Linked DNA regions of Homo sapiens: region 2 is linked to region 1. Evidence: fine-mapped expression QTL. A gene starts in region 1. The other region holds a variant in brackets. All regions are shown on one strand. Distances are from middle to middle.

The links.
Region 2: its variant is fine-mapped to the expression of RWDD1 in whole blood (INTERVAL, PIP 0.94).

The regions. Positions count from the first base shown.
Region 1 is chr6:116,569,815-116,572,842 of GRCh38, reverse strand. It overlaps RWDD1 (RWD domain containing 1), which reads right to left and starts at 1,339. Exons shown (of 7, transcript NM_015952.4): 1 at 1,188-1,339. The coding sequence starts at 1,260. RefSeq lists enhancers at 1,085-1,184, 1,405-1,734, 1,765-1,944 and a silencer at 1,285-1,364.
Region 2 is chr6:116,518,455-116,520,954 of GRCh38, reverse strand. The region is part of intron 3 of TRAPPC3L (trafficking protein particle complex subunit 3L); the gene reads left to right. CALHM5 (calcium homeostasis modulator family member 5) reads right to left here. Exons shown (of 2, transcript NM_153711.5): 2 at 1-2,500. Among named protein-coding and RNA genes, the nearest start is that of CALHM5, 8.1 kb to the right of the region's middle. The variant A/G (reference allele first, on the strand shown) is at 1,408.

The DNA.
Region 1 (3,028 bases):
AACAAAATTTGCTACCATTGCAAGCAGTGGTCAAAAGGTGAAGCCAAGAAAACTAAGCTAAACAATGAAAGGGAGAGGGGTTGGAATTTATAAGTTAAAGTAATATACCTTACACTATAAATTCTGACTATCAACGATAGGCAACACTCAAAGGAAAGGATGGGGAATGTAAATGCACACACCTAGGTTCTACTCACTCATATTGGCTTTATTTGACCGCTTCTCAAATCTCAGAGGAGCCATATTGATATAGTTATGTAGCATTTTTATAATCATCCGAAGCATGGCTTAATAGAGAAATCTCGTCCTCTAAATTATACCTAATGAACTTCTCATTATAATATTTTACATTAGCCCAACCTACCAAGTAATCTTCTGCTCTCTCAATCTCAGCTGGAGCTGAATCCCAAGTCCCATATGTCTGGAAAGTGAAAGAACAGGCAAGCGTTCTGGACGTATAACTCAGTACCAGCCCTGCCGCTAACTCGCTGGCGGACAGTACAGAGCAAGCCACTTAGCTTTCCTGAACCCCCATGACCTTGGCTTGGAGCAGGAGCCCCAGGATAGATGATGTTTAATCTCCCTTCCAATCTAACAACCTATGAATTTATAGCAGAACGGAAATTTGGGCCACATTATCCATTAGGCATTCTGCTGAATGCCAGATTTTTTTTTTTTTCATAAGAAAAGAAACCCGACAGACTTCAGGGACTATGCTACTCTCAAAACCGATTTGAGTAACTGAAAACAGCACTCTGAATCCTATAAACTAAAACAGCATCGTATGAAAAACAGTTTCTACCTTAATAAAGCTAAAAATGTGAAAACTAACATTCTTGCGGCTGTGGAAAAACGAATCGCACTTGGAGTATTTTTTCTCTTAATGTATTATAAATCTCAGGTTGCTGTAGGTTACACAGAAACCAAAGTAATCCCGACTCAATTTTCAGGCCTGACACCCTCCAACATCACCCGGACTTTTAGATTTCCGGGAACAAGCAGAGAAGGAGAAAAAGTCACTGGGTTGCTGGTAAGTGACTGAAGAACTTGAGGAGTGGAGGGCAAGGTGGCCGCGCGGCCTCAAGGTCCCCTTCTCCACCCCAACCTATGAGGCCCAGAGCTGCGGCAGCTCCTGCCCGTCCTACTCCACCTCGGGGCGGCTACAGGCTTGCGGCCGCGGGAGTCACCTGTGAAGGAGTCAGGGTAGATGGACTCCAGGGCCTCCAGCTCGTTGCGCTGCTCCTCGCCGTAATCTGTCATCGTGGCCCTTGCTCTTGCCCATAGATCGCCCAGACACCTAGGCGGCGCGCAGCAGCCCAGACAGCTGCCGCGCCGGGAGAGCGGGCGGCGGCCAGGCGGGCGCAGGCGCAGAGTCCCCGGCTGGAAGGCCCAGGGCCCAAAGCCAGACCCGGCTTGCTTAACTGCAGCTCCGCGCCGGCCTCCGCCTGCTCCCTACTTCCACGTTCGACTCGTTCTGCCTGGCCAGGGGGCACTGATTTGCTGCCTGTCCCACACTCGCTCGGGACTTGCTGGGACGGTGCGCGCGGTCTGGCATTCGCCAAGGACACCTACAGCCGGCTCCTGGGCTTTGCAGGGCCTGAGCCTTAGAAGCCTCTCAGCGCTGCATCCTCGCTCGATGAGTCTGGGCTGAAAGGCCGGCATCGCGCGTCAGTGAAGGATAGTGTCGCTGGTGGCCGGGCTGGGGCGAGGGGCGTCCGATGCCTTCACCTTTTCTGGTTTCCGGTTTGACGCCGTGGCGTAGGTGCTGCGGGCTTGCAACCTAGTGTGGACTGGTGGGGCTCAGGAGATTTCTGAGCTTCTCGAACTCCGTATTGCTTGGCGTCCTACGGGAGTTGGACGAGAGGCTGGGACCAGTGTAGATTCCACTGGGCAGGGGAGCAAAAGCTCTGCACTGCCTTGAATGAGTATGGAAGGGTCGGTCTAACTGCTTAATAAGTCGGGGTGGATCCAGGAGGGAGAAATAGACCGGAGGTCCGGCTTCTCGGTTCAGATCTTTAGGCTTAACTTCTGATTTTGTGAAATGAACGCAGCTGGACGTATGATAGATCTCAAGATGTCTGTGATTGTGTATTTGTGAATTGATGAAAGGAATGTAGATCTCAGTAATAACAATTATCATATGCAATGTAAAAATTGCAGTACCCCGAGAAATGTTGAGAACCTTTAATTTGGTAATACGACTTCCAAGAATAAACTTGAGCAAGTAGCATGCATCTGTGATCTCCAAAATCATTGCAGCAATTACAAAGAAAATTTTCAAAGAACCATGATGGCAAAAGCTAAGAAAATGGCTAAATAAACATGGTTAGCTTTATGAAAATGATATTAAAAACTATGGTAACAATAATAAAGGATCCCATGTTCCTTTATTATATTATTGCGCTAAGTCGAAAAATGGAAAATTTTAAGAAAATACTCAAAAGCTGTTGCCCACTTTTCTGTATTTTTCTTTGTTTTGATTTCTCTGTATTAAAGCTGGTTTCACTGGTATAGTGGGAGGAACACTTTTTAAATGAAAGATTCCTAATGATGAAGCCCCTGAAGCACCAGAAGGCACCTTGATCTTTTATTGAGGAGTGCTGCTTACCTATAGCAGAGGAACACTTTGATACTGATTCCGTGTTTACGGTATTAAGGGTTGATTTCAGGCGTTCTTTTAAACTTTAATGAAAAAGTGGAGTCTCCTAACTATGATGACAATCAAATAAAATACATAAAGTAACTTTGCAAGTATAAGTTGCTCATTTTTTTTGGATCGCCTCAGTTCAGAGGAATTATACTGATTTATTATGAGGAAAGAGCTGCCAGAGGAAACAGCTAGTGCATTAAGTCCTAAGTGGGGAGTCAAGGATGATTTTTGGCTGGAAGAACTGGAAAGACGAAGTTCTGTTGACCAAAATAAGTGAGGAAGACAGAATCAAATTTGGCAAGGAAGGTGGCATTACATCTTTAAATGACTCCTAGATGAAAGAAAATCAAGCAAAATTAAGTTTTTTTCTCCTAACAG
Region 2 (2,500 bases), 52 kb after region 1:
TTGCTTAGCTAGAACCAATTTAAATTCATAAAAAAAAAAATGCTCACTGTAAAACTTCTGAAAGTTCATCCCAGCCCAAGAAAACCCATGGTATATTGGCAAATACATCATATTAGGATGTCTCTTTTTTCCTGGAGAGCCAGTTTTTAAATTTTTATCATACTCTACTGTTTGAAATCCAGATAACATTTCCAATATTTCAACCTCACAGCCCCTCACCACCTTCACTGACTCCCCATATAAAATCAGTAGTTCTTCACCATGACTGCACATTATAATCACTTAGAAAGCTTTTAAAAGAAATCTCAATGTTCAGGCCCTAACCCAGAAAAGTTACATCAGGTTCTCAGGAAATGGGTCCAGACATTGTGATTGTCAAAGGCCCCCAGGTGATTCCAATTTGCAGCCAACATCGAGAGCTACTGACAAACACAGATAGATGCTTTCCATCCAACCTCTCATGCCAACCTCTTAGCTTTTTCTTAATGATTTTGGGATCTAAAATCAGAGAAGTCCAAGCACTACCCACAAAGGAAATTAATATCCTCTGGCTTGTACAACAGGGGATATTTAAAATAAGAGAGAAAAATGAGAGGGAAATATTAGAAAATTAAGATAATTACCTTAGAGAATTCGGAACCACCAAAGTCTAAATAGAATAATATAGTTAATAGTTGAAGTACTTGAAATATATCATGTGAGAAGCGGTAGCAGTTTTCTGCTACCCAGTGACTTCTGGATTGCTTTAACCAGTTTTTAGAGTAAATCAGTGGATCATCAGGCTTTGAAACAACTAATTTGAATCAATAATGTCATCGTTTTCTCATTAAATGTATACATTTTTAGTGATGCTTTAAAGGTCTCAAGTAGAAAACCATACAAAAATTTTAAAAGTTGCTTTGGACACATATATTTTACAATACATTACTTTAAGGTATAATGCATAGAATTATGTAGTGATTTGTCTGCCATGCCTTATTTTTGTAATCTTTGTTACATACCTTTTTTTCTCCCACTTTATATTTGATATGAATAAGCTGAATGTATCCTAAAGCTGAATTAAGTGGTTGAGCCTGAAAAAAGGAAGGAACTGCACAGGAAAAACAAAAGAATCATATATATATGTGTACACAATTTATTCATGGGATAAATTGGACAGAATCAGCATTTTGTGCCATGAAATTTTTCCTTGAGTATATTCCTTGTATGGGAAAGCATCACATTCTTTTCAAGAGCATTCTCCAATCCTTTTCTCTTATGTAATAGGGTAGTGGTGGTAGGGAGAAGACCAGATCTTCAGGGAAAATTAGAAGTATTAAAAGGGAGTCAGCCTGGGCTTGGGTTGGCTCTAGCCCAAGGACCCTTCCATATGCTTCAAGTCTAGACCTAGAAGAGACTGTTATGGCA[A/G]ACATTAGTATGACCATTGGGTGCCCTCTCTAGATATTCAAATCCAGGGTGCCAATGTCCCAGTTCGGCAGTGTAACCTCCTCTGGAGGATCACCCTTGGGCCACTGGAGACTCCTCACCTGGAGTTTTCTGGGGAATGCTCTCTCTTGGCTGCAATGGAAGCCCCAGAGCACACTTGGGATCAGGAGAAATCTGACATTCCAGAGCCCCCCCATAGGTCAAGCTGAGGCTGAAGTCCCAGAATTTCCTCTGGGATTGATTGAGACTCCACTTGTAACTGCATTCTTTCTTGTGTTTATCCTGCTAATATGTTTCTCCTAAGAGGATTTCCTTTTAATAAATCATGTATACACAGCTCCCTGTGTCAGGCGCAGCCTCTAGGGAGCACATCCAAAGACAACTAATGGTCCACACATTTTAAAGTCTCTGCTATCAAAGCCAGTTCATCCTGCTGCCTCTAGATACCCATTCCCTCAAGATACTCAAGAGCAGACACCAATTTGCTCTCCCTATCTTACTCCACTGCCTCCAGGACTATTTGTGGGACAGATAAGTTTTCTTGGACTTGTTTTATTCCTGAGTAAAGGACTGTTAAGGAATTTAGGAGTCAGGATGAGAACCTGTTAAGTGGCTTCTTCCAGAGGAGGAGGATGAGCTCTTCTGCTACTTACTAAGCTGCAGCAACAAGTACCCAGGCTGCTGGCTTCTTGCCAGTCAGCTTGGGTTTTCTTGAATGAGGCAGTCATTGTCATGAGCGTAAGTTTTTTGAGTGCAGAAAGTCCCTGGACTTGAGGGTGGCAGGAATATCCCCCAGATATGACTCCTCAATCCTCAGCTCCTTACAGCTAACCTACTTCTGTAGAACTTCTGTTTCAGCCTCTCACACACTGCAAAAGAGGCATCGGCATCGGCCAGTTCCTATATGTCTTTTTCCAGCTCAGAAGACACTTAAGGGCAGACAAACTTTAAGTCAAGAAAGATTAAGAAGGAGAACTCTTTGCTGAATTTTCTCTCCCTTTATTCTGAAAACTCTACCCCCTCACATCCCTAATCCCTGTTCTGTCCCTGCCACATACACACACAGACGTCTGAC